Linked DNA regions of Homo sapiens: all the other regions are reported to be linked to region 1. The links are microRNA targets in miRTarBase. Many come from high-throughput screens and were not tested one by one. Region 1 holds a microRNA gene; each other region holds the end of a gene's coding sequence.
The links. The annotated mature microRNA hsa-miR-122-5p reads UGGAGUGUGACAAUGGUGUUUG and lies in region 1 at 2,874-2,895, opposite strand. An mRNA with a match to its seed (bases 2 to 7 or 8) in the 3' UTR can be bound and repressed. Matches are read on the target gene's strand: a 7mer-m8 pairs with bases 2 to 8, a 7mer-A1 pairs with bases 2 to 7 and ends in A, and an 8mer does both.

Region 2: miRTarBase lists A2M as a target of hsa-miR-122-5p. The part of its 3' UTR that is shown has no 7-base or 8-base seed match.
Region 3: the mRNA of STARD13 is a reported target of hsa-miR-122-5p. The part of its 3' UTR that is shown has no 7-base or 8-base seed match.
Region 4: the mRNA of FMN1 is a reported target of hsa-miR-122-5p. Seed matches in the 3' UTR shown: 7mer-A1 at 3,580-3,586.
Region 5: miRTarBase lists SUMO1 as a target of hsa-miR-122-5p. The part of its 3' UTR that is shown has no 7-base or 8-base seed match.
Region 6: the mRNA of PLXDC2 is a reported target of hsa-miR-122-5p. The part of its 3' UTR that is shown has no 7-base or 8-base seed match.
Region 7: the mRNA of NFATC2IP is a reported target of hsa-miR-122-5p. Seed matches in the 3' UTR shown: 7mer-A1 at 2,256-2,262, 7mer-A1 at 1,414-1,420 and 7mer-A1 at 348-354.

The regions. Positions count from the first base shown.
Region 1 is chr18:58,449,915-58,453,982 of GRCh38, reverse strand. MIR122 (microRNA 122) reads right to left here and starts at 2,909; the gene lies at 2,825-2,909. It overlaps MIR122HG (MIR122 host gene), which reads right to left. Exons shown (of 3, transcript NR_170245.1): 3 at 2,702-3,164. MIR3591 (microRNA 3591) reads left to right here and starts at 2,831; the gene lies at 2,831-2,903.
Region 2 is chr12:9,064,517-9,068,584 of GRCh38, forward strand. A2M (alpha-2-macroglobulin) reads right to left here. Exons shown (of 36, transcript NM_000014.6): 35 at 3,667-3,708; 36 at 3,192-3,323. The coding sequence ends at 3,307. LINC00612 (long intergenic non-protein coding RNA 612) reads right to left here and starts at 554. Exons shown (of 3, transcript NR_034140.1): 1 at 1-554. A2M-AS1 (A2M antisense RNA 1) reads left to right here and starts at 661. Exons shown (of 2, transcript NR_137425.1): 1 at 661-712; 2 at 1,310-3,539. It also overlaps a transcript of KLRG1 not described here. RefSeq lists a silencer at 1-49.
Region 3 is chr13:33,102,059-33,106,126 of GRCh38, reverse strand. STARD13 (StAR related lipid transfer domain containing 13) reads left to right here. Exons shown (of 14, transcript NM_178006.4): 14 at 417-2,990. The coding sequence ends at 534. Among named protein-coding and RNA genes, the nearest start is that of KL, 88 kb to the right of the region's middle.
Region 4 is chr15:32,770,644-32,774,711 of GRCh38, reverse strand. It overlaps FMN1 (formin 1), which reads left to right. Exons shown (of 21, transcript NM_001277313.2): 21 at 358-4,068. The coding sequence ends at 402. Among named protein-coding and RNA genes, the nearest start is that of GREM1-AS1, 54 kb to the right of the region's middle. RefSeq lists an enhancer at 1-1,144.
Region 5 is chr2:202,203,609-202,207,676 of GRCh38, forward strand. It overlaps SUMO1 (small ubiquitin like modifier 1), which reads right to left. Exons shown (of 5, transcript NM_003352.8): 5 at 2,574-3,713. The coding sequence ends at 3,645. KIAA2012 reads left to right here. Exons shown (of 24, transcript NM_001277372.4): 24 at 1,390-1,580. Among named protein-coding and RNA genes, the nearest start is that of SUMO1, 33 kb to the right of the region's middle.
Region 6 is chr10:20,279,252-20,283,319 of GRCh38, reverse strand. It overlaps PLXDC2 (plexin domain containing 2), which reads right to left. Exons shown (of 14, transcript NM_032812.9): 14 at 1-3,617. The coding sequence ends at 3,501. Among named protein-coding and RNA genes, the nearest start is that of MIR4675, 270 kb to the left of the region's middle.
Region 7 is chr16:28,963,019-28,967,076 of GRCh38, reverse strand. It overlaps NFATC2IP (nuclear factor of activated T cells 2 interacting protein), which reads right to left. Exons shown (of 8, transcript NM_032815.4): 8 at 1-3,372. The coding sequence ends at 3,214. It overlaps NFATC2IP-AS1 (NFATC2IP antisense RNA 1), which reads left to right and starts at 633. Exons shown (of 2, transcript NR_186408.1): 1 at 633-661.

The DNA.
Region 1 (4,068 bases):
AAAAGCTGGTCTGGGAAGATGCCATCATCAGAGATTTGGAGCAGCAGGATTGTAATTAGAGGTAGAAAGGGGAGAGGGAAGCTTTGCCTTCTATGTGTGTTCCTTAGAGATCTACAGAAATGACAGGTCTCCAATCCCGAATGCAAAACGAATCCAGGCAGCAATCATAATAAGCCATTAAATGAGCCAACCTAGCAGAAAAGACACAGAATGCTATTCACTTGGCTCCCTGTTTAATTCCACCTGAGAAAAATCTCAGGGTGAGTGGGAGTGAAAAGGAGCATGGAAGACCCAGTCCTCACATTGTCCCCGAGTCTGGGAACAGTTCAGAACCTCAAGACTCTGGGTCATTTGGTGCCACATCAGGTGGCTGGGTCATGTAGATGGCTGCTTGGTGTTGGGACAGTTTGTCTACCCTCTTCCTGACCCCAAAGCTACCACTTAGATGTTCCTTCTCTTTCATTTCATGATTACAGGGTTTTGCAATTTTCAGCTTTCTCTGCACAATGAACACTCACAAGGAGACATTCTTATATGGCTCATCCCTCTCTAATTTACAGGTTTTCCCTCAGAATCCACTGACAAAGCAGATGGGGAGATGAGGATATTGATCGCATACTGGCGTGATTAACCCAGGTTCTACACAGATTCGACTGTGAAGCATGAGATTTCACAAAATAACTAGGCCAAAGGAGGCTGCAGGTACAGGACAGAACTTTAGACTTAAGAGATCCATGTTGAGTTGTGGCTGGAGGACCAGACGATTCCAGAACCCTTTAGACTCTGTTTGTCAAACCGATCATCTTTGCCCCATGTTGTATGGATCAAATGAAATGGCATGTGATATGGTTTGGCTGAGTCCCCATCCAGATCTCGGCTTCAATTGTATCGCACAGAATTCCCACGTGCTGTGGGAGGGACCCAGGGAAAGGTAATTGAATCATGGGGGTCAGTCTTTCCCCTGCTATTCTCATGATAGTGAATAAGTCTCACGAGATCTGATGGGTTTATCAGGGGTTTCCACTTTGGCTTTTTCCTCATTTTCTATTGCTGATGCCACGTAAGAAGTGCCTTTCATCTCCCGCCATGATTCTGAGGTCTCCCTAGCCATGTGGAACTGTAAGTCCAATTAAACCTCTTTTTCTTCCCAGTCTCGGGTATGTCTTTGTCAGCAGCATGAAAACACAGACTAATACAGTGTGCATGAGCGTGATCTGTATAACAGTAGAGCCCTCTATTAATGCCTGTTCAATTAGAGCCTTTGCCAAAAAAATACACACAAAAAGGAATGTCAGTGTCTCAATTATTTCAGGGAGTCTGATTCTCTTCTTGACAGTAGATGGTGCCAGGAGGGAAGAAATGAGAGGTGGTAAGAGATGCAGGGCAGGCAGGGGTGCTCTTCTTCTTCTTTGGACAGAGGCATCTCATGACCTTGAAGCCTTTGTAGTGTATCATAAATGTGTGGGCTGCATTCAGGTGAGGCTTTCCAGCAAGGGACTCAGAATTATTTCGCAAAGTTTTGCTCATTTGGCTCCCGTTTGGAACAATTACAATGGTCCCAAAATATAATGCGAGCCAGTGAATGCCCATCTCTGGAAATAACATCAGACACATTTAATTTAAAAGTGTCTTCAATGCCTAGGACAGTGTCAGGCACACGGTAGTCTCTACACATATTTATTTCATAAGTGAATGGTTGAATGGTTGAATTTGTTTCTGATGGTTGATCTAACCCTGTCTATTTGATTAAACATGTCCTACTTCATTTAACCAAGCCTGGGGAGGGAAGCTTTAGTCTGGCACAAACGAAACCTACTCCTGACTTTAGACACCTCTCAGAGACAGAATGGGTTCCAAACCAGAGCACCTGGCTGGGCCAACTGTCCTAGAAACTGCATGGGTCCCAGATTTGCTATGGCAGCTCACACATGCTTCATAAACAATTTTCTGATGGTAATTCACTGATGCAAGAGGAAGAAAGGCCTAGTGTACGAATTCAGTAATCAGCCTAGTAATTGATTGAAATCAGTAGAAATCAAACATATTCTAGAATTTCTGAAACGTCAGTGAAACCATGTGTAAGTTTATTAGAAAGTTGGATTTTTTAACGACGAAAAGAGAAGGACCCACACACCTTAATTTTGTACCTATAAGCTTGCGGTCTGTCTGCATAACATAGATTTAGCCCAGTCTTAGCCTTCTGCGTCTAACACTTTCCTAACTATTCATTTTAAGTCTATAAGCATGGGTTAAATGATTACCTCGTGCCTGGCCTTGTGTTGGGGGCTCTGAGGAACTCTGCAATCTTTTTATTTTCATTTTTTGAGACAGGATCTTGCTCTGTCACACAGGCTGGAGTGCAGTGGTACCATCACAGCTCACTACAGCCTCAACCTCGTGGGCTCAATTGATCCTCCCACCTCAGCCTCTCAAGTAGCTGAGATTACAGGCACATGCCACCATGCCTGGCTAATTTTTGTAGTTTTTGTAGAGACACGGTTTCACCATGCTGCCCAGGCTGGACTTGAACTCCTGAGCTCAAGTGATCCGCCTGCCTTGGCCTCCCAAAGTGCTGGGATTTCAGGCGTGAGCCACCGTGCCTGGTCTGCAATCTTTTTATTGACTTGGGAAAACAAGAAAATTAATCACCAGCTAAGGTATGTAACAACAGCATGTGAGAGGCAGGGTTCAGCTAACCATATTGGTTATGAGTGCAAAAGAGCCAGACTTTATTCAGTAAGTACACAAGATTGAGAAGACTGATATCAGATGAACCTTCTTGCTCAAAGCAAACGATGCCAAGACATTTATCGAGGGAAGGATTGCCTAGCAGTAGCTATTTAGTGTGATAATGGCGTTTGATAGTTTAGACACAAACACCATTGTCACACTCCACAGCTCTGCTAAGGAAACTCTGTAGCCACGAAGGTGTTAACTTCACCTCCACATTCCACCATTGTCACTGATAATAGGGGAACCTTGTCAGCTCCACATATTGTGACCTAAGCAGAGAAAAGAAGCATCACGGGTACAAGCATCTTGAGCAATGGGAAGAGCTGAACACTCTCAATGAAAGGCTTCTGTGTTCTGGAACAGTAGAGTAGTAGAGGGGTCCACTGCCTGTGTTCCACTGCCACCCAGCAAACCCCTTCTGCAAAAACTTCCTGTGAAAATGGACAGGAACTCTGTTTGCAACAATTTTCTAAAATGGCTGAGAGAGAAAGAATCTCTAGAGGGAATAGATTTCTGGAAATAAATACTTATTGGAAGACTACATTATAAATGAGAATAATCTGGCCGAATGAATGGATACTCTCCAACTCTCACCTCTTCACCTACTTCCCAATCCATCATCAGTAAATGTGATCAATTCTGCAGTCTAGGAAAATTAAAATTATTTTATATGGGGATACAGCAGTTAGATGTGTTGTGATCTACTCTCCGTGGCATCTATTGGATATAAAGGCATCTGGTCTTGCTCAAATGTTCAATCTTCTTGACCACAGTCATTTTCCACCATGGCGGTGGGTGGGAGATGAGGGGAGAGAAGAAAGAGAGGAAGATGGAGAGAGAGGAAACGAGTCCATTTTTAGTTCATGATACTCATTTTCTAGCAAAAAGGGAGCTCCAAATAAATCCCTACAGGATTTACTTGGCTTTCCTGTTAAAGATGGTTTATAATTGTTATGTGAACTCCTGCCCACCATGGAGAATGAGAGGAAATAAAGCATTTTACCTACTCCTTCTTTTCCTGCAAATGCTGAAAAGGGAAAGGGTTGGGAGCCAGTTATTTTTTCCCCAGGATAACTGAGTTGTTAACATCTGACCAGAGTCTTGCTTTAGCCCTAAAACCGGCCCATCTTTAACAGCTGTAAATGAACCCTTCCGTATTTTTCAGAAAAAAAAAAAAAAAATTGCGCCTTATTCTCATGTAGATCCTGAAATCACCCTCTTCAAGCTGGACTTGCAGTGATTATCCCCCTGCGAAAGCTGAAAGTCGTTCTGCTCCCATGGGTTGGAGTGTTGAAGTTGCCTCTTTTTTTCTTTCCCTTTTTCACTTTGTGGATT
Region 2 (4,068 bases), not on the chromosome of region 1:
ACCCTGGCCCTATGTCGCCGCTCTCGCCCGCCGCCGCCGCGGAGTGGGAGTGGGGAGGAGGGGAACAGTCCTTGGAGCCGGCCCCGGGAGTACTCCCGGAGCCTGCCGCCCTGGAAGCCGCCACGATGGACCGGGCTGAGTCGCCCGCCGGAGGGGAAGCAGTGTAGTCGGGCACGGAGGGGCAGGCAGAGAGGGGCCCCAAGGCGGAGCTGGGTCCGGGGCGGAGCGGTGTTCGCACACAAAGCGCTGGGGCTGGACCCAGGGTTCGGGGCCAAGGCGAGAAGTGGGAGCGGGGCCCGCTTTGGGGACCCGGACAGCGGTGTGGCCACCGCGCACACCTCCGACAGCGCCGCATTCCTGGGCCTTGGGAGGAGGCTCTGAGTAGGGCCGCCTGGGGCGCGTCTTCAGGGTCCTCCCGGCACTGGGGTGACCGCCGAGCTAGACGCGCCTGAGGGCTGAGCCCCAGGGCTCGTGATCTGCTCCCGGAGGCGCCCCCCAGGCAGGGCCGTGAGCCGGGCGAGGGAGAGTCCTGGGCTGCCCCTGAGCCCCGGGGCCACGGGAAGAACTTGCAGCGACGTCATCCCTGCCCCGGACACAGTCCCGGGCCCAGGGAGGACCTGGAACATTCCCTTCCTCCCCCCCCCCCCCCCCGCCCCCGCCCATCAGCCCAGCCTGCAAGGAGGCGCCACCGGACCTGCACACTCAGGAGCAGGTGAGCCAGGGACAAGCAGGAGCCCCGCCCCTTCCGAACTGGTGGAGCAGGAGCTCCCAGGGTGCAGCTGCAGCCACCTTGCCGCGGCTGTGGACATTTTCTGTGCTCTCAGAGGCCCAGCAAAGTCCCCTGCCCACTGCAGGCTCCAGGGTGCCTACTCCGGCTGCCTGGCTTCTCTCCACTGTTAGCACCCACTCTGAACTCAGAGCAAGGTCGGGCCGAGCCTGGGTACTGTCACAGCCTGGCCGAGCGTGCACACGCTCAGGACAGTGCTGATACGCCAGCCCCCTGCCGTCTCGGCCCCCTTTGGAACTTGGGCACCAACAAGCGTGGGAGGGAGGCTGAGAGGGGTCTGAAGACAGCTGGACACTGACTTGCAGGCGCTCCTTGGCATGAACAGCCTGGGAGCAGGAGGCAGACAGGTTCCTGGGTGGAAGGGGATGGGTCCCCAGTGAAGTCCCACCCTCAAGCTGGTGAGGGCTTGAAGCCTGCAGACCAGAGAGGTAACTTGTGGTGCTGCTCCCTGGGCCCACTCATGGCTGCCCATGGACCAATCAGCATGCATTTCCTCCCTCTGAGGCTCATAAAATCCCCCAGACTCAGCTAGATTGGAAGAGAGGATGGGAAGACAATGGATGACCTACCTGTGGAGAGAAACTACCCATTCCAGAACCTCCTCTCTGCTGAAAGCTGAACACTCAATGGGAAGACCTGTTTGCAGAGAGGAGCCAGCCACTCCAGGGTCTCCGTTCTGCTAGAAGCTGAACACTCGTTGGGACACCCTTGCTGTGGAAAGGACATCCTTACTGTGGAAATGAGCTACTAACTGCAGGTCTCCTTCCTCTTCATCTTCCTTATCCTTCTGTTCCATTGCTCAGTAATGCTCCTCTTCATCTGTCTCATTCTCCACTTGTCTGCTTGATGCAGGAGCTGAGGAGCTGCACAGCAAGGTTAAAAGAGCTGTAACACAAACAGGGCTGCAACATGCCCCTTGCTCCCCACAGGGAGAGAAGAGCTCTGGCCCTCGGAGAAGCCCAGACCTGGGAGCTCCTTGAGCCCGGGCTGTGACTCCCTCTTTGGGGCCCTGGTTGGCGTCACTGCATTCGCCAGTGCCACTGTTGGAAGCTGCTTGTGATGCGCCTGGTCCAGGGGGAAGCTGTTTGTTGTGTGCCTGGTCCAGCCACCTCATGGAGAGCCTGTGCTGGCACCTGGAGCTGCCCAACCTGGGCAGCAGCTTGTGTGTGTGACTGCACAGTGGCCACGCTTGCTCACACACCCCTAGCACACCCCTCTGCTCCACCCGTCTCAATCTCCCTTGGATCCGGGATCCAGGTTGGTAGCAAGTGCGAGTGGGCAGAAGCAGCCCAGTGGGCCCAGAGCAAAACTCAGGCAAAGGTGCCACTAGACTGGCCAGGAAAGCGACACCCTAAAGATCCCATAATGCTGATATGTTAATTCTATTCTATAAGCACCACACAGAAGTGATAGCTTTTATTTCTTATTTTGTCTAGCCTGGAGACAGAGCTAAGGATTCCTTGAACTGCAAAGTCTTTTCCAGTTCTTAGTTTATACAATCCATACTCACCTTCTGCCTAACTAAGCATTGTCATTTTTGTGCCAAATGAAGAGTAGGACTCCTACGATTGTCCTCAGACTCTCTTGGCTCAATCCTCCTGCTTTAACCTTTCCTACTTCAAAAACTCCTGAAGTTTTGCTTCCCCTTCTATAGAATGGAAATATATGTCGCAATACTTACTGCAAAGAAAATTATATATTTTAAAAATAGACTAAAGAGATGTTGTGAGACATCAGACATCAATCAGATGTTGTGAGAACTGATTTCTGCATCAGAATATCTCCTTGACTTTACAGCTATCCTTTAATCCTGGCTCAAAGTTCCAGAAGAAAGATGATCCAATATAATACTCCTATTTGGACTTTGAGTCATACACATTCCTTCTTCTGAGAAAACGTGCTTCTGCATGAATCCTCCCTTCATTATTTTCAGCTCATCTATTATTGAATCTGAAACCCCAGGTTAACTGACTGATCACTCTCATCAGTGGCAGATTTTGGTGTAACATAGGACACATCACTCCCAATTCAGGTCAAGTCCCAATTATCTTGCCTCTCAATATGACATGTTCAATGTTGTATTTCATTCTACTTCATTTTAATGTAAAAAGTCTTTTCTGGTGAAGTCAGTCTTTTATTTTCTCATAAAAATTCACCCTTTGGGTTTTTCATAGGGTATTCCCATAACCAAACACACTTTACACTTTCCTAGTACATAACCCAATACTTTCTTCTTTCCCCACAGTCCTTACATGAAGCCTACTCAGACCGACATCACTGTATCATTTTTTTGTATTCTGAAGTCCTTCAGCACTTGATTCCTTTAAGTTTAATCTTGGTATTCTATTGGGAATCATATGGAAATGTACAATGATATTTATTGAATGAACAGGAAACAGGGAAAGACATTGACCAGAAAAAGTGTTTATTCATCAAGTCTTTAAAGATACAAAAACACGTGTCTTCTGTGGAGCTCTGAGAACAGGACTCCAGCAAAGCACTTTTCAGCCTTGTGGTCTTCAAGCATTTCCAAGATCTGTGACATTGGAAAGAAAAAAAATTAAGACAGATTTGGGTCTCCATGAGCAGAGAGTATTCTTTCCCTTAGTTCTGGGTAGCATAGTGCCCAAGGAAACCTAATCAGTACAGTGGGAAACCAAATCTATTCCAAATCATTACCCATAAGCAATCCTATGGACTCTCTGAGGTTTGACAGAGTCAGCGGCCCTCTCCAATAAATGTGTTTTTCTATAATAATGTGCAGTGTGAGTAATTTGATGTTTTTGACAAATATTTACCCAGCGTTTTATGAAGGAGAAGGTTTGGGGGGCAAGCTGAAGGAGCTCTGACTGCCTTTTGGAGGAGTGTGAGTGGCTTACCTTTGCTGCAAGGAGCATTGTACTCAGCAATTGCAAACTCATCTGAAAAAAAAAAAACCAACAAAAAACCAGAAATCATTACATGAAGTGAGAAAGAAAGCAAACATCTGTGGGATACAGGCCAAGGAAGGAGTTTGTTGTGGGAAGAACAGTATTGTACCAGAAACATAAGCATCATTCATCTGATGTGTTGCTTGCTACCTTATATTCTCCTTTCAAATATAGTGTTTTATATATTCTTTTATCCCAAACTCCTGAAGGACTCTTCAGATGTTCTACTTACTTAAATCTCATATTGTCATACAGTCCATTTATCTGATGAAAAGGGAACTAAATATCCCACAGGTGTTTTGTATTAGTAGTTGATAAATTTATAATGTAGGTTGTTTCTATAATGTATGT
Region 3 (4,068 bases), not on the chromosome of region 1:
TTATGCCTGTCCCCTTTTGCTGCTCCCTCTGGTAGTTCTTTGAGAAGTAAGTAACTTACATCCAACCCCTTCAAGGCATTCATGATGCTAAACCCAGTTCTTGGTCTGGGTAGACAAAACGGAGTTTTCACAGTAAATTCTGGATTTCATCTGAATCTTTTCATTTTACCCCAAGATGTTGGTATCATTTTAAAGCACCTGATGAGTACTCAAATGACAACATGAATACTTAGCAGCCAGGACGTTTTCAAGGCCCCTGATGGCAGAATGACGTCCTGAGCCCCTCAAGGCAGCAGCCCGAGCTGTCTGCAGGTTCACTGGTCATCGGGGCCCAAGGGCAGCCCTGTCCACCAAAACTAATTGCTGTGATTTGGAAACAAACTTTCCCACTTCCTTTCTGATTTCTTTCCCCACAGAGGTCACTCCCCAGAATGGTACAGCAAAGGCTTTGGACATCTGTGTGCAGCAGAAGTTGCCAGGATTAGAAACTCTTTCCAGCCCCTCATTGCTGAGGGCCCAGAAACTAAAATCTGAGTTTTGCCCAGTGTGACATCAAACTCAGGGAAGAGGAAGCTAAAGTGACGAGTGTGGCAGAGAGTGTGCATGTGAGAAAGCGAGAGAAAGAGGAACTGAAGGACGCGGTTAATGCCTAAAAATGGAAACGTTAAGAAGTTGGAATGTTGGAGATGCAAGAATTTCCAAGAACTTTCTTAGCCTTCCTGGAGATGGCTACATCCCTACTAATATAATTTTAAAATGAGAACTTTATATATATTACTTAAAATTAAATGGACTATTCCTTGTGCATTGCCTAATTTGCTATTTAAAGGCTTCTAAGAAGCGTATACCTAACTGTAAATAAATGTATGTATAGCATATGTACATATGTGTGTATATCTCCATCTTTACTGTATATATGTAAAATACCAATTTTATATAGAATTGTGTGTTTTGAAAATGACGGTGTCTGACTCAGTGAGTCCCTTCCTCACACAGTTCTTTCCAAGTGGCTCTGGGCCCCATCTCTCCACTGTCCTGTAAGCTGTGCAGAACCTGCTGCTAACACCAAGGTGTGAACATGCCCTGATGCCTAACCAAAGATGAGTTAACCAAAGGAAAATAACATTAAAGGAGACTTATGTGTTAACGCTTTGTTTCTGCTATTCAAAAACTGAGAGTGGAGATCTGGGATAAAGCAAGGAAATAATAATTACTCCTCCTTAAAGCAAATGGGGGGGTGAGAAGTCATTACCAAATTTAAAGCTAGATGAGGAGTTGCCACTGGGCCCAGTAAGATGGAATTTCAGTGAGATATGGACCACCGGAGTCAGCGAGAGTGACTGAAACAGAAGCGATACCTCTCGCTCCCATGCCCATCACTACAGACCCCAAGTCAAGATGAATATCATAGCCTTTACTTCTTCACAGCCAAAGGGAGCCCCTGTGTTGTCTCAAGTTTTTATAAATACATTTCATAATGTTATTAAATGTCATTCTATTTGACCAGTGGCCTATTTGGTCACAGTTAATTGGTGTTTTCTTATTGCACTGAATTCAACTCCAGACACCATACAAAGGGAGATGATGGCCATTCCGTTCAAATCCTAGATCGTTACAGCTTCAGGGAATTCATATTTTGTTATGTGTAGGATACTCTTAAAATGTAATTCATTAAACTTTTACAATCTGAAAGACAGGGTTTTTAACTAACATGAGACCAAAACTATGTTCTTTGATTAGTTTTAGATAGTATAATCGGGTTTATTAATTCTTCTGTGTTTCTTCACTAGCCAGTCCAAGCTACCTATGCATTTGACCCAACCTTATTTATTATTGTACAGATGAAGCGAATTGACTCCCTTTAGCCAACTGCTAATGGATCGAATGTGCTTTTTATTGTAATTCAACAGCTATAGAGAGAAAGATAACTTATTGTGTGTTTGATTTCAGGGAGAGAGATTTTCTTTGGTCATCCATAATAGAGATTGATAAGATTTAGCAACTGGTGTTGGAGAAAAAAAGAAAAGCAAATGAGTGTTTTCAGGTTTTTTTGCATTATATGCATTTATGTAATGTTTCTGTTATCAGCAATGTGCAATTATTTTATTGAGAGGAATAAAAAAGCTTTCTATGAGTTTGGTATGGTGCGAGGAAAATCTTACAGTTTGAATTATGACCTAGAAATTTTTCATTCCCATATCTACCTAAGAAGGAAGCAGTAAATCCATAATTTACCTTTTGGGCAATGCTTTGTGAGCAAAACAAAGTCACTTCTGCCATAACATCTTGAATTTAACCATATATGCCAGATTACTTTATATGCATCAACAAGATCACCAGTGAAGTTTAATCTAGCTAAACACTGGTCCTGCTCCTGAGATGGGATCCTATGTGTTTGGAAAACGTGATAGGCACACGAGGATGAGTGGCTTTGTATCGCCCAGAGAGGTGCTTGTCCAGATTTCACATGCACATGAATTGCCTGGGGATCTTGTGAAACTGCAGACTCTGCTCCAAGTAATCTGGGCTGGGCCTGAGATTCTGCATTTCTAAGGAGTCTCAGGGATGCCTATGCTGCTGGCCTAAAACCACACTCAGAAACGAGGACCTAGAAGATCCCTAAAACAGAATAAGAACAAATGTGATTGTATTTCTGATTCTCCCTCTCTTCGAATTATCTGACTTTTTTGTTTTTGTGCACATAGTAATCATATCACCGCTGCATAACAACACAGTGCATCTTTTTAAAACAAGGAAAAGGGAAAAAAAGGAGAAAAAACGATGCATCAAGCTTGTTTGTCAAATACCACAGTATTTTATTCATTGTTATCTTGCCAATGGAAATAAAGTATGATATTGCATTTAAATATTATATTTATACCTCATGTATATTTTTACCTCAATTGTTGATATCAATCATCAATTGTAAATAAATAATTGCCAAGGCAAATAAATTTATATATATTAAATATTTCCTATTTTCTATAAAATAGATGTTGATTTTCATGCTTCATCTTTAAATGGAAAATTTGCTTCATGAGGAAGATTTCTCCCAAGATAGCCTGCCATGACTTTGACTCCTTGGTACCATCTGTAGTCAATACTGTCTTCAAATACAAAGAAGTTGTTGTCAACAGACATTCACTATCAGGCTGGGTGCCTTAACCTGGATCTAAGGGATTAAAGTGATGGGTGGGGATTTTTTTTTCTTAAATTTCATTGTCCTTAAATCTAGAAGTTATAATTCATAATTTTTTTCATATTCATAATATTTTTATCAAAGGTTTAGTAAACTCTTTAGCTACATTTTATTTTTGTTAAGTGGACAAGAAATCAAGATATGATGAAATGACTTACAGCCGCACTACTAGACCATGAAAAGTAGCCACAAATGACTCTAAATCTCTTCCCTTCTACCCTTGAAATCTGAGCATCTCTTCTAAATATCAGCCCAGAGAGCCCTTAAGAAAGCCGGGGCTCTCAAACATTCTCAGGCACAGGCTTCCAAAGCCACAGAAGCCCAGAAGACTGTATGCCCCTACAAAAGTTGTCCCAACTCTGCTCTCTTATCTCATGCACACCTTCCCCTCTTACTTGCAAGTTTTGCTTTCATAGTAGGCAAAGGGGGAATTCAATGGCGCTTTTTCTCTTCTACATGAAGGAAAAGAATGTGATGGTCATTCTAGCAGCCGCAGGCTACAGATGTCCTGAGAGTATGGATCATATGAATTCAAAGGTGATTCTTGCTAATTACTCTGATCTCATCACCATATATGTATCAAAACATGCAGTGACTATGTACCCCACAAATATGTACAATTATTATTTGTCAACTAAAAGAACTTTGAAAAGGAAAGAAAAGTTTTTTACATTATTCCAAACACTCTTCATGAAATTCTTAGACATAAAATTGTTCCACCTGTGTCTTTTGATATTTGGTTACAGAAAAACTGGACATATGGTTCCTTCTCAGGAAGATAAATGTAAAGGTTTAAAACAGACCCCAACCAAATGGAGTGTCACATTCTGATACGAACGCAAAGTCAATGTGTGCTGACTGCACAAGCA
Region 4 (4,068 bases), not on the chromosome of region 1:
TGAGCCAAAGGTAGGGACGGAAGGGGTCCTTGAGTAACACTACAAAGTTAGGGTCTTTGTCACAAAAGAAGAGAACAGAAAAGACCACCCTGGCATGGTAAAGGCCCGTGTTTTAGATGGATGTAGTTGGTAGATTGGCTGGTTATTGATTTCTTGTTTGTTTTTCTGGGGAGTAAGGGTGATAGGTAGGGAGGGGCAGATAACTAAGAGCTTAGGGAAAGCAGTAGAGGTACTCTCATTTCTAGGCCATTTGGCACAATTCCGGAAACTCAGCATTCTAGACCAAAATTTGAGAAATGTATCAAAACTTGAGAAAGATGAAAGAAAATGATACATTCATTTTTTTTTCCTTAACAGAAAGAAAGACTGCGTCAGAAGGAAGCCAGTGTGACCACTAACTAAGATGAAGACACATGGAAATGATGGCACTGGAGGTGGAGGACCTTGCACGCATACTCTTTGTGACCACAGGGTTGCAGGACGTTCTTGAAAGATGTGTCACTAAATGTTTGTTTTTGCTCATCTCTTTCTGAGGTCATCTGCAGAGAGTGCCCCATGCCTTCTTTAAGAAGTCCCTCATTAAGCCGCAGGAACAATGGAAAACTATTTAAGGGAACATTGCAGAAATATTTGATGACTGTTTCTTGTGGAAGCCCAAAGTCCACTCTAAGAGCAGAAGAAATACCAAAATGTTTCCAAAATTTTTTTAAAAGCTGAGATTTCCAGCTTTATAACCAAAGCTTGATATATGTCACATTGTCACAGAAGAGAGAAAAGATCATTGAGGACAGTTGCCTTGGGAGAGTTCAAGTCTTTGTCGTTACACACTGCTGTTTTGATTATTGGTCTTAGTTTTGATCCTGTTGCAGCAAAATCCTGCAGCATCTTTCTCTCCAATAATGTTGCAACTCACCAAAACTATTCTTGAAGAGGTCCAAGAACATGTATTATCCAGACTAAAAAAATGATTTTTTGTTGTTATGGTTTACGTGATGAAAAGGAGAAAAAACAGAATCATACCTGGGTGGAGAGAGGGAGACAAATAGCCATAAACTTCATCCTGGAGAACAAGTTACCATGCAAGGAGTTGACATCAGTTGTTAAGTGAGGCCCATTCTTGTTTTTACATCGGTCCTTTGTGGTTTTTCTGGGCCAGCAGAGATTCTGCACCCCAACTCCCAGGAGAAAATGTAATACCTGAGCAAGCACAGCCTTGGGTGTGCTTGGACAAGAGACCCAGCGGCAGAGCACCTTTTACATTTTGGACCGTTCATGAATGGGCAATGTTGTGTTGATACGCAGCCGAGTTCTACGTTATGTGCTGTGACTGTGCAGCTGGACGACCCCCATCCCCAGGAGGCAGTTTCCAGACAGGAGAGCAAATGCAACTCACAGCACCTGCTCATGACCTTGGCTGATAGGCATGTGAAGTAGGATGAAGCAGGACTCTTTAATGTCAAAAAAACTGAAGGGCAGAAAAAAGGTTCCTTACATCAAAATGAAAGTAATTACATTAATAGAAAACTTCCAAGTGGAATATTGTTCACAGGCAGCTCTTTCTGACCCTGGCTCTTGAGTCACATAAGGAAACCACCTTTGACCTCTCTGACACTTTTGTCTTTAAGCCACGTCTCTGAAATCTTGTGAGGGGTGAAGAAAGAGGACTGGAGATGAATGGACAATATGATCAAAGACTCATTTTTAGGCCTTGAAGAGGCCGAGCTTTCTCCCCCCAATTGGTGGAGGACAGTCCAGAGATGAGCAGAAATCTTAAATTCCTTCCTGATCCAGCCTCCACATGTGGCCTGCCCCTTGCCCCAGCATCTTTCCAGAACCCCTGGACTTGCCAGGTGCCTGAGCATCTTCCCAGGATATGCCTGCCAGCCAGCAGCCCCTCAGGAATGCTTCTATAATAGATCCAGTAATGAAAGCAGCACCATATCCTAATCTAATGTCAGCTTCGAGAATGAAGACTGCAGTCAGGATCAAATCAAGTCACAGAAGCCATATTCATGCAGGTGCTAACCGCCTTTTCTACTGGTGCAACTGAAAGGAATATGGTAACATGGTTGGATTTTTAAAATTCACAATGAAGGAACGAGACAAGCAAAACAGAAAAGCCGAGAAGGAACATGCATGACTAAAAAGGCTTGAAGTTGCTTGTGAGCAAGAAGCTTTTTATGCTGCTTTCTTACATAGTTTCTCTTCATTTTCACTTAACTCTGAAGACAACCAAAAGAACGGATCAATTAAAAACTGATTCCACTTATAACCATTGTATGCTCCTTCTAGTGTTATCATGCACAAGAAAAGTGCCAGTTTTACCCATGCCATATAATTCAGCTCTTTTGAGTTATGTGGGGCCAGCAGAAGTCTCAATCCTTATAGGCTTGATGGTGAGAGCAGCGGGAGGTTTGAGGTGTACTCATTGCAGTCCACTTTGGTCTGTAAGTAGGATGCTTACGAGAAATCAGTGAAGGTAAGCAGGGCTGCCACTGTGGCCACGTAACCCTTCAGGAACCAGTGCTGAAGAATAATGAGTGAGAACACTTAATTTGAGAGTTAGACAAATACAGCCCACTTTGGATTTCATCCTAGTGAACAGACTAAAACTTTGCAGTAAAATACCTATTTCTACAAAGCAAGGTTTGCCTGCCTCGGTTGGGGAAACCTAGTGGTTTTGTCACACTAGTCGATGTATGATGTTAGTGTTGTAAGACACCATGGCAGAATCTTCATTATTCTCACCTATTCTGAACCCTGCATCATGTATCTGGGATGCCCCCTCCCAAGTCCACCAATGTACCACGTTGCTGACACAGCCTTCATTTTTAACTCAAATTGATGCTCAGTAAAGGTCAATGACAATTTGTTCAAGGAAGTTCATCTAAAATAATCTGGAGGCCTTGAAAATGATCCCTCTAAAATGCTGTTGAGCTTGTGTTCAGTGTAGCAGGAGGATCTGAACTTTTCCTGGAGAGGAGGTGATCGGGATGCCATTTGGCAGCTTAAGCACATCCTGCCAGCAGGCTTTAAGTGGCTGTTCTAGGCATAGCCCTCCCTGAACTAGAAAGGAGAGTAACCAGTTTGCTATGCTGCATCTAACCAGACACACCTGACTTAGTAGTAACTCTAAGAACCCTTAACTTACAAACAACTTTGTCTCCTCTTAGACAATATTCATTAAATCTGAGGACACAGTTTGACAGTAGTTCAGATTCTTGCATGAGCAATTGACAGCATCAGAGCACACAATATCATAAGTTACATAAATTACACAAAGTACATCATAAATTACACTACAGACACGTTAGGTAAAAAGCATCAGGCCCGGGCCGGGCGTGGTGGCTCATGCCTATAATCCCAGCACTTTGGGAGGCCAAGCGGGGGCGGATCACGAGGTCAGGAGATTGAGACCATCCTGGCTAACACGGTGAAACCCCATCTCTACTAAAAATACAAAAAATTAGCCGGGCGTGGTGGTGGGCGCCTGTAGTCCCAGCTACTCGGGAGGCTGAGGCAGGAGAATGGCGTGAACCCAGGAGGTGGAGCTTGCAGCTAGCCGAGATAGCACCACTGCACTCCAGCCTGGGCGACAGTGAGACTCCGTTTCAAAAAAAAAAGCATCAGGCCCATGAAGTATCAAAAACCAGGTTAGGAGGTGTGCTGTATGGCTTTTATCTCAATAAGTGGCAGCTTACTGGGGAAAAAGAAATAAGAAAAAGTGTGGCCAAGCAGAAGTGGATGTTTATGATGACGGTGGGGGCCCAGAGGTCATAGGTGATGGTCCTACTGCCCAACAGTTGCCTTTTGAATCCTTATGTTGATGATGGTGTCTTTCTACACACTCACTGCAACTACTCAGGAATTATAAAGATTTTCTGAAATCTGAGAAGTGGAATAAGGAAACCCAGTGGAGCTATTACACTTTTAAATGTTCTAGCCAAAACAAATTGCCAGTATGGTTGAGGAATTGAATATCAGATGGCATGCAGTCTCCCCTCCCCTCCCCTATCAAGGACAGTAGAAGCTGCAAACCTCTTCTCAGCCTCCTTCAGGCACCTCCTG
Region 5 (4,068 bases), not on the chromosome of region 1:
CACAGATGTAGAATATTTCCATGACAGGAAGTTCTATTGGGCAGCATTATTCTAGAGCCCTGAACATTAATAAATCTTGAGTTTTAGCCCCTGTGCCCTGAAGAATTAACCACCCACAAAAATTTCCCCAGTTGAAAAAATTACATTGACTCTACCAGGATGTCTTTTTTTTTTTTTTTGAGACGGAGTCTCGCTCTGTCGCCCAGGCTGGAGTGCAGTGGCACGATCTCGGCTCACTGCAAGCTTCGCCTCCCGGGTTCACGCCATTCTTCTGCCTCAGCTTCCCGAGTAGCTGAGACTACAGGCCCCCGCCACCATGCCTGGCTAATTTTTTATATTTTTAGTAGAGACGGGGTTTCACCATGTTAGCCAGGATGGTCTCGATCTCCTGACCTTGTGATCCGCCTACCTTGGCCTCCCAGAGTGCTGGGATTACAGGCGTGAGCCACCGCACCCAGCGGTTTTTTGTTTTTTTTTTTTTTTTTTAAGACAGGGTCTCACTCTGTCGTCCAAACTAGAGTGCAGTGGCGCCATCACAGCTCACTGCAGCTTTGACCTCCTGGGCTCAAACAATCCTCCCACCTCAGCCTCCCAAGTAGCTGAGACTATAGGCACGTACCACCACACTTGGCTAATTTGTATATTTTTAGTACAGATGGGGTTTCGTCATGATGCTCAGGCTGGTCTCAAAATCCTGGGCTCGAGTTATCTGCCCACCTCAGCCTTCCAAAGTGCTGGGGTTACAGGCATGAGCCGCTGTGCCTGGCCCAGGATGAGACTTGATTAGATATTTAACATCTCTTTTAATATTTAATAAAATATCCCTTTAACAAAATGAAGAAAGATATTTTTAGCATACAAGTTATATAAAAGGATGTTATTTAAATCTAGAGCATCTGAACTGAATTTTTTCACAAATTTCTTTTGGCCCTACTCTATACTTAACTGTCCACAGATGAAAAGCTTAATATTTGCAAGTAATCCCCTCCAATTCCTCATTAATGTTTGTAAGGTATTTGCTTTCTACAGAAATTACACCTTTACAACCCAGAAATCCAACCTATTTGTAGTCTGTATTGCTGTTATTAGATGTGCTTAGATTTGATACTTATTTTAACTCCTTTTTTGTAAAAATTAAACAGAAATAAAACAGTCAAACACTAGATAGTATCAGTCATACTGAACTTAAATATGTCATATAAACGTTTTCTCAAGCTTGTGGACCCTACCTGGACATTCATTCATTCAATCAATTCATTCAATACTACTTAATCAGATAAGAAAGGAGCATCTCAAATAATTCAACCCACAACAGAACAAACACTTGAGGATAACATCCTTGTGGGGGAAATTACCATTGCTGACTTTATTTTCTCCCTTTTGTTACAGATTTAGGATGTTGCAGTCAAGCACCAGATAAGAGTGACTTCCCTAAATGTTATTCAAGGTCCCTTCAGAAATCTGATAATCTGTTAAAATTTTTGTTGTGAAATGCCTATTTTATCAGCACTGCTAACCAGATAAGCACACATTTAAGTTAACCATATCAGAGTGCAATGCATTTCGAAAAATCCAAAAAACTAAAAACAAGAAAATTACTTCCCCAGTAGCTAAGTCCCACCAAAATCCTGAGCGTCTTCAGACATTCAGAGACGCAAACAAAATTAAGATACCAAACTACAGATTCATAGTTCAAATACCCAATCAGATCTGTTATTCAATCTTGACAGAAATACGCAACTCATGAGGATTTTCTTAAAATGGGCCTAGTTCCTAGTCACTGTTCAATGAACATAATGATAAATATCAGGTGACAATCTAAAAGCTCTAACTTATACCATACAAATAATTTTTCAGTTAGGGTCAAACATAAGAATTATAAGATCAAGCCAATCAATCTCTTTCTCAAAAGGTGACTTGAGTAGGTATGTAAGCTATAATAGTTTATAAAATGCATTCAAAGTGGGTTTTATTTGGTCTTCTCAAGTAGTTAGATGACATTCTATTTGAGATAACATGAAACTGGACTGTATGTATGCATAGATGTAAATTCTGTGATTCATTAGCATTAAAAGGAAAAGTTAAGCCCTCTAATAGGAACAAACTAATCTGATATTTTAATTTTACACAAAGTTTAAATATTTAAGATAAAAAGAAATAAGGCTGGGCCAGGCACGGTGGCTCACGCCTGTAATCCCAGCACTTTGGTAGGTCGAGGCAGGCAGATCACAAGGTTAAGCGATCGAGACCATCCTGGCCAACATGGTGAAACCCCATCTCTACTAAAAATACAAAAATTAGCCAGACGTAGTGGCACAGTCCCGAGTAGTCCCAGCTACTCAGGAGGCTGAGGCAGAAGAATCACTTGAACCCGGGAGGCAGAGGTTCCAGCGAGCCAAGATCACACCACTGTACTCCAGCCTGGGTGACAGAGTGAGACTCTGTCTCAAAAAAAAAAAAAAAAAAAAAAAAGATATAAAGAAATAAAAGGAAAACATAAAATATACCAAACCTTACCACTTTGTACCTTGTTAAAGGAAGAACTGAAATTATCAATAAAAATCCAGTAAGAATTTTTGGCATGCCCATTTATTCAACATGATTAGGTAACTGTATCATATATGCACCATACAGGAATATCAAGTTTTTAAAAAAACAGAACACTGAGTATTAAAAAGGTATTGTGGCCTTAATTAAATCCTTGATTCAGAAGGCACTTCAGTAACTTTCAGTGCTTCAAAGTCATTAACATCATCACTGTACAGTAATGAAGAAAAAATTTGTACCATGTGCAATTTCCAGTATTTATGCAAGAAAACCTTATTTTAGGCATTTTTTTCTTTCTATACAATTAAAATAAAATAAGCATTAGTATGATTTTTACAAATATTGTTTATTTTAATGAAGCTGGTACAGACAATGTCCATTTAAAACCCATATCCCAGGCCAAAAAGTACAAATAAAATCAAAAAGAGCAGTGTTCTGTTGTATTCATTTCTGCATGTATAGCTTTATTAATTGCTAATGAAAATTAGAACTTTTCTGGGATCTTCTGACAAGATTTTTAAAAAATCTTAAAATGCCTTTTCTTCAGTGAAGCCATCTTTGGAGTTAGTCATTACTCTCACCTTATCTGTCATCTTGACTTCAACCTGATATTCCTCTTCTTTTGGTCCAGACCCTCAAATTTTAAAAGTAGCTTCAAGTTAAGGAAAGGTCATTTTTCCACAGTTCAGTTCTCTGAAAAACTTCCATCTCCCACTGAAAGTCACAGTCCAGGAGTGAAGTAATCACATGCTAGAACATCAGGGCCAATTGGAAAGTCATTATGAACACTTGCATTGGTCGATCTTATTTATCACCACAAGCCTGAAAATGCAATGTCCTGAAAAAGGTGACCTCTCTGTGCACACGTAATTTTTAAAAAGGAGAGGGTAATATGAAGGGGACTGAGGCTTGATCACCAAAAATCAGCACAATGAAAACAAACAATAATGAATAATGAGCACTAGAATTCAAATTACCAGATGTTTCAAAGAGATGGGGTGCCAGTTTTCAATTCCGTTTTGAACACCACATTACAAAAGAACTATTTTTAAAAATAAAAAAGGATTGAGGGAAAAGAAAAAAAATAAAAAGAATATCTAAACTGTTGAATGACCCCCCGTTTGTTCCTGATAAACTTCAATCACATCTTCTTCCTCCATTCCCAGCTGTAAGAGGAAAGAAAAATGTTAGACTATAAAAGCAGTTTTTAAATTGACTACAATTACGTGGCCACTAATTTAAAAGTGCAAAGAGATCCAAATGTGACCCATACTTACACTCCTCTAATATTAAGAATCCTGTGTTCTTTAATCTAAAGAATATAGAGGTGTCTTTCCTTCTGATTCTGTCTATTTAGTTATGCATCTTACTTTCCTGAGTCAATTTCACTTCCCAGTTTATTCGCTATATAAAACTGAAGTGTTTTTGACAGCCATGTTAAAGAACTTTTAAATCTAATGAAACATGTATTTAATAGTTTAAGTGATAGTTTAATAGGATATATCTAATTTGGTGTTTGTT
Region 6 (4,068 bases), not on the chromosome of region 1:
GACAAAAATTGTTTTTCTTTTCCAAAATTGCAAATTGAGACTCAAGGAGGTTGAAGTGATTTTCCCAAGATAACACAGTGGGGATTTAAAGCTGTGTCAGCTTGTATTTTTTTCATTACTCCATAGGGCCTCTCTAAAATCAAAAATGCTTGGATATGCCCAAGAGCTACCAAATCTTGTTTCTTTCCTCTTCTTCCCTTTTCTTCAAGGACAACGAATTCAAATGAAACACAGCATTGTCCATTAAAATTTTCTTCAACCACGGAAGTGTTTCTTGTTATCCAATATGGTAGCCACAAGCCAGGCGTGGCTATTGAGCCTTTGAAATGTGGCTGGTGTGACTGAAGAATTACATTTTTAATTTAATTTTAATTAATTTTAATTTCAAAAGCCACGTTGGCTAGTGGATATAATATTGGACAGCACAACTCTAGAAGCTACATATAAGAGATTGGCAAATGCCCTTGATACCTCAAACTAAAATAGTAATTGGGGGTCAATTGCACTTTTAGTTTTCTAGGTGTTAGTATATCTTGAAGTCCAAACCCTTCACACACAAGCCACCATTTATGGTCAGTGCCATCTCTTGGGCTTAAGCCATTTATGCCTGAGGTTGCAATTTTTTGAATTTTTGCAACCAGACCTTGGTGATGACCTTGAGCAGTAGGCTCTAAATAACTCCCATAAGCTTAGCGTTCCAATAATGGAACACTAGACATAAATGGGTCAAGATATTTTTCTTGAGTTTCAGTATCTTTACCTAGTCACTGATTATTATTTTTACAAATAATTAAGCTGAAATAACTAAATTCCTCTGTAGCACCATTTATCTGATTTATCCAGAAGTTTGCATCTCTTTGTTATCTTTTTTTGTTATTCTATTATGTTCATAGTATATTAAGTAATGTACAGTTGCACCTTCTCTAATACATAATTATGTAAAGTCCAAAGCATTGATGACCATTTTGAATTTTCAGAAACTGTATGTTTTCTCACATGGGAACAAGAACAAACCAGAAATATAAAATAGAATGAGAGTTTCATGAAAGAAAAGGATTTAGCCCACATTTCCCCTTACCACTAAAGAATTCACACACCACACACTTCTCACTACCTTTAACTCTTAGTTCTGTTAAGAAGTTTTCCCACACTCCAGTTTCAAGAAGTTTTCTCTATTATTTGTTGCTTTGGTTCACTGAAGAATTCAGTGTTTATGTTTTTTTACAGAATTATCAATTGTTTTGAATCAAAATAGAAAATTGATTCAAAATTGTTTTGAATCAATTGTTTTGAATCAAAATAGAACGCTGAAGGGTATAAGAATAACATTACTACTTGAGAATTAAGTAGTACTTAAGGGACACAAACTAAGAATACACATGCAAGATTTATATAACTGTCAAACAGTTGCTATTGGAAGCCACAGCTACCACAAAAGGTAGTGAAAGAAGCATCATTTTATCCTAAAAGGAAGTCGTCTATGTGTTCCTTATGCATTTGTAGAATACCAGTTGCACCAGTAATATTGGCATGTCATTTGGTTATTGCTGTCTCACCAAACCTGCTCCACAAGAATAAGTGGGGATACTTCACATAAACCATACATAGCTGCTGCAAAGAGATTGTCATCACAATCCTTCAATCACCTTGCTTTTCAAAATTTTTTTTAATAGTTAACTAAGTTAGGAAAAAGTTACCATCTTCATCAAATACTTAAAATTGTAAAGCAAAATATATGGAATAGAAAATGGCATTCGTTCACGTCAGACACTTGTGATGATAAAGTATGGTACTCTGTGAGTGGACTGATGACCAAGGCAGATGTGTACAGATGCTAAACTGTTGGGAAAATGCTGCTTATGAGACATCTCTGCTTCTTGAGACCTGAATCTGCAAATGTTGAGCACTGTACCTTACAAAAGCCAACAGTTTCTTGGCACAGAGTGTAAAAGTTTCATGGGTTAGAATGTTGGTGAAATTGTACACTCAGTACCTGAATTTAAACTTTAGGAGCTCAGTATGTATATTAACCACTTTCCTTCTCAAGGGATGCCATTCCTTTCTTCATTCATGAGGAATTTTCAAAATCAGGATTGTGATTCCAAGGCAATCGATATCTCCATTTAAGGAGCTTTCTGCATCCACTTTATTTAGCCAGAGAGGGAAGGGGTTGACATAAACGAAAAAGTGGATCAAATAGTCAAGAACATGATGGGCGCGGCAATGAACTGAACCACTTTTGCTAAGTGACAGAAAAATATTCTAATATTAAGGATTATTTTACAACTCTATGGAAGTAATGCAGTGATGCATCTTGCATCTGTTTTGCCTTGATGACAAAACGCACTCTTAGAGTCACAAGATCCTGCCTTGTGTTAGTTATAAACAAAAATATATTTATATATATATATTTATGTAACTACTATGTGCTTTAAAGAAAATTACTGTATGATTCAGCAGGGTTTTTTCATTCTTTCTATCGCCATGCTGACGTGAATGGCTTCTTAGACAGGAATCAGCAATGAAATGGGTGTTTAGTACTGAAAAGGCATAAAATTAAAAATAATCATATGTTTAAAATCCCTTAACATTTTTGTTTCAAAAATGATTAAGGAACTCTTCATACTGTTTCCTTTTGTTTCCATCAGCCCAGAGCAACTGTGGTTTCATGGGACTTAACAGTTGGGGATTGGAGGTAAGGCTTCCATAAAGCATAAATCAGATGTTTTCATGCTGAGGCAGGAAAACAGAAAGCCCCGTTTGCCACCCCCTCTTCCCAAATCCTTAGTTAATTGTTCGGAAATTTTGTCACAGCTCATAGAAAGGTCATTCATTACAAAGGAAGAGGCAGACATGGTTTGAACCTCCTGTACGGATAAAAAGATTCGTTCTGTAAAGTGATGAACTTGTTGGTACAGATGGATCTAGACCAGAAAAACAACATCCTTTTGCCACACATCTGTTTTGAAAATGTAGAAAATCTCTTATTTTGTGTTTGTTCTCACTCTTGCATGGGCTGTTTTTCTTAGCAATCTTGAGACATTCATCATTGCTCTTTTGAGTGAAAGGGTTCAGGCTTTGGAAAACAGTTATCTTTGAGACATCAGAGAACATTTGAACCAAAGGTGTCGATCCCTCATGAACTAAAGCTTTATTATGATTTTTTTTTTCTGATCCCTTTGCAACCCTGCACCTAAGCCAAAAGCATTATAATCTTGTCATACTTCAGATAAGTCCACGGGAGATGTTCCGAGTGAACTATAGATGACATTCCACTAGGGAATTCTATGTTCAGTGTAAATGGTATCTTGTATAAGTTTTAGTTTTTTGTTTACCCTTTGTTTCCTGGGCTGAGCTTGTCCAGAAATCTTGTCTTCTTCAGGCTACAGCAGCTTAGAGCTTGTTTGTGTGTGTGTTTGTTTGTTTGTCTTAAAGGTATAGGCAAAATTTTAGTCTTAACACCTGTAAACCAGTACTGGTGTTGTTCTGTCCTAGAAATTTTAGCACTGCTCTGATACAATAAAGCCTTCTTTCTCTCCAACTGGTTCAACTTCAGCATAGGCAGGATGTCCAGAGCCTCTTCTAAACTTCATCGCAGGCCATCTGCTTGGGCGTCTCTGAAACAGAAAACACAAAAATAAAAAATGTGCGTCAGGGTAAGATTCTAGCACCAGAAAAATCTATTTGCTAGCTATTTTAGATTAAATGTTGAATTAATTAACACATTAAATTATCTCTTATTATAGCTACAGTCAGAATTAAGAATTCCCCTTATCAACCCTCCAAGCCCTGTGCTTGCATTTCCAAGATGGCGCTATCTACCCCTGTCACAGGAAAGACCATTTGTCACACCTGCCCTCAAAGGATTCAGAGCTTCTCCCAAGCAAGGTTTAATGCCTTATGCATATGTCTGAAATGCTCAAATATAACTAGGCAAAAAGGAACTGTAATAGAAAATATTTTTTAATATATGGGCACAGACACTCTCTCTTCTCTACAAGTCAATACTGATATCACTTCATTTTGTTCATTAATTCACTCAAAAACTAAGGTCAAAAAATTCTGCTG
Region 7 (4,058 bases), not on the chromosome of region 1:
TTATTTTGTTGAGGTTAAACATATAATTTTAACGTATTCAAACTTATTAATGGACATTTAAAAAGCTGAAAAAGTGAAGAGCTGTACCATGTCGTGGATTATTTTAATGTCATAAAATTCAAAGGAATGCCACATTTCAATAAAACATTTTAAGAAGTTGACATACTTTTATTAGAATCATGCAAATATTAGAGAAAGGTTAATGGCTTTTTTTTTAGTAGACATTACTGAGAAAACTGGCTCATTATATCACAAAAAGTGAAACTTGGATCTCATATATAAAGGTGTATTTCACTGAATTTTTTTTTTTTTTTTTGAGACAGAGTTTCCACTCTTGTCGCCCAGGCTGGAGTGCAATGGCGCGATCTTGGCTCACTGCAACCTCTGCCTCCTGGGTTCAAGCGATTCTCCTGCCTCAGCCTCCCGAAGTAACTGGGATTACAGGCGCCTGCCACCACACCTAGCTCATTTTTTTTTTTTTTTTTTTTTGTATTTTCAGTAGAGACAAGGTTTCAGTCTTGAATTCCTAACCTCCGGTGATCCACCTGCCTCAGCCTCCCAAAGTTCTGGGATTACAGGCATGAGAAACCATGCCCAGCCGATTTCTCTCATTTTTTTTTTTTTTTTTTTTTAAGAGACAAGGTCTCGCTGTGTTGCCCAGGCTGGTCTCAAACTCCTGGGCTCAAGCAATCCTCCTGCCTTGGCCTCCTGAGTACAAAAGTGCATCTCAAATAGTTTTAAAATGATGTGCAATATTTAGCAACCAGTACAGCCCAGCATCAACCAATTAGAAGAAGTGTCTGACTGTTGAGAACAGATGCAGCCAAGGTGTCACCCCGGTGTGTACCAGCTGGACTTCAGCACTGTGTAGTGTTCTCAATATGAAAGGAAAAGCTGAACAGCTAACAGGAGAAGATGTAAAATATCTTAACAACTCTATTAAATAAGCAATCAAAAAGCAACCAACTGCAGAACAAGATAATTCATACTGTCTACATTAAAATTAAAATTTTCTTTTTTTTTTGAGACAAAGTCTCTCTGTCACTCAGGCTGATGTGCAGTGGCACTGTCTCTGTTCACTGCAGCCTCCACCTCCCGGGTTCAAGTGATTCTCCTGCCTCTGCCTCCTGAGTAGCTGGGATTACAAGCATGCGCCACTGCACCCAGCTAATTTTTGTATTTTTAGTAGAGATGGGATTTCACCAAGTTGGTCAGGGTGGTCTTGAACTCCTGGCCTCAAGTGATCCACCCACCCCGGCCACCGAAAGTGCTGGGATTACAGACCTGAGCCATCACGCCTAGCCAAAATTAAGAATTTCTGTTCAGTGACGGATACCCCTAGATACAAAGAAAATTTCAATTTTTTCCCCTTTAAATCTTTTTTTTGAGTGGAGCCTTGCTCTGTCGCCAGGCTGGAGTGCAGTGGTGGAACCTTGGCTCACTGCAATCTCCGCCTCCTGGGTTTAAGCGATTCCCCTGCCTCAGCCTCCAGAGTAGCTGGGACTACAGGTGTGCGCCACCATGCCCAGCTAATTTTTTGTATTTTAGTAGAGACGGGGTTTCACCATGTTGGCCAGGAGGGTCTCAATCTCCTGCCCTCATGATCTGCCCGCCTTGGCCTCCCAAAGCCCCCTTTTTAATTTTTTTTTGTAGAGACGAGGTCTCGCTATGTTGCCCAGGCTAGTCTCGAACTCCTGGGCTGCAGCGATCCTTCTGCCTGGGCCTCCCAAAGTGCTGGGATTACCAGTGAACCTCCATACCCAGCCCAAATATGCATTCTTGGAATTATCTGCAATTGCCCAAGAATGTACAAGCAACTCCTGAGAATAAACCAAAAAAGATAAGAAACTCCATGAGAAAATGGGCAATGCACAGGAAGGGAAACCAGAAAGGCTAAGTGAAAAAATTCCCCAAATTAATGCTGATCAGATGAATGTATGTTAAAGCACTGCACCACTATCTACCCATGAGACTGGCAAAAATTAGGTAGTCTGGCAATACAAGTGCTGGCAAGGATAAGGAGAAAAGGGCGGCCTCAAGTAGGAGGGTCAGTCACCGTTCTAAAGAAAATCTGGAAAACCAAAGAGAAACTGACCTCTGTGACCTATAGGCCCATCCTGGGTACACATGCCACACAAGCACAGAAGGGAACACACGAAAGGATGTTTATCGTGGCCTGTATCCGGTGCCAAGGGGTCAGGGGCACCCAGGTGTCCCCCACTTTAGGCAATGTGTGTAAACTGCAATTGACATTGTGGAGTGCCACATGGCAGGTCAAAGCAATACTGCATTTCTAGAAGAGTCAATGGGGCTAGATCTTAGCACACATTGAGTGAAAACAGCATAAGACCTATTGCACAATAGCACTATGTACAGTAAAAGCACATATTCACACATGAAACGTGGTATTTTACAAATACATTCATATTCAAAGACATGGGTGCTTATGGGAGAGGATGGTGTAAAGAAAGGGAAAAAAGCCATAAAACCAGAGAATCTTTGCATGGGACTGTATTCCTGAGATCCCAAACCAAAGGGATGAATGTGCTGTTATGCCTTAAATGTGTGCACCAGGAAATGCAAACTAGAAAGGGTGGCTCTGAAGGGTCCTCAGGTGAGGAAGACCCCCAGGGCTGAGAATCCACCACCTTCATCCTTCAAAAGAGTACCTCAGTTGTCTGCTTACGCTTCAGCCAGCATGTGTGAGCTTGGTCATTTCCTGCAAGCCAGGCAACCACACCAGTGTATAAGCCTCAAGCAAATGTCACTCCCAAGCCCCAAATGGGACTAAGGCCTCTGCTGGGCTAGGCGTGGTGTAAATCCCAGGCCTGGAAGCTCCTACCCAACCCTCATTTGTTTCAACTCACTTTCAATATGTGCATAGTTTCATAAAGCAGACATTTCCATGAGGAAAAGAGGATGGTGGTGAAAGGGGAGGGGTGAAGGGACATCTCCAAGTCACAGAGGCTGCAAAACTCAGCATGACTTGTGGACGGAGCCACAGGCCACCCAGGGCAACAACACCCACATAACTCACCAAGTGGTTAACGGCTCTAAACCAGGGTCAACAGGAGAGGGGACAAAAGTCACTCCTTGATTTTGCTGCAGCTTAAAGATAAGTTCTACCTCAGCTTATGCTAGCCCTTATGGGGCAAAAAAGGGAAAGTCATTCTCCCCAAGTCCAGGCTGGGCCGTCAAACAGGGAGTGGGGTGTCAGCCCCAGACCTCAATGAGGTCCCCAGATTCCATGCCCAGGTCAGCTGGCAGCTCCCTGCCTGAAAGCTTTGTCCCATCAAAGAAGAAGGAGAGCTTCCGTCCCGACAGTCCCATGGCCTCCTCATAGTGGGACATGAGGGTCTTTAGAGGGGAATCCTGGATGGAGACAAAAGAAAATGGACGTCAGAACATGAAAGGGGGCGGGGATCCCGTAGGGATAGACGAGGAACTTGGGACAGGGAGGATGGCGGCAGGGGCGGAAACAATAAAGTCAGGGCCCCATGCGGGGAAAGGAGAGAGGACAAAGAAGCCAGCCCAGCCAGGCTCCTCTCTGGGAGCTGGGACGAATCCTGTCATCCCTCTGGGCTCCAAGTTGCTCAGGTAGAGGACGGGGGCCACGAGCCCAAGGCTTAGGGGTATAGGCTCTAAGTCAGGCAAGTCCTCCTAGCCTCAGCCTCCTTCCCTATGAAACAGAAGTGTGTACCAATGACTAAGAGAGCCCAGATTCTAGAGTGAGGATGAGTCGAGCTGGAGGCCAGGCTCTCCCACCTATTAGATATGTGACCTTAGAAAAATGTTACAGGTTATGTTCCCCAGAGAAGACACCTTGTGGTCTTAACCCCTGTTAAGTGTGAATGTGATGTGATTTGGAGACGGGGCCTTTGCAGATGCAATCAAGTTGAGGTTGTACTGGATTGGGACGAGTGCTAATGCCGTGGGACTGGTAGACAACTCACTGCAACCTCTGCCTCCTGGGTTCAAGCAATTCTCCTGCCTCAGCCTCCTGAGTAGCTGCAACTACAGGCACAGGCCACCACACCCAGCTAAGTTTTTGTATTTTT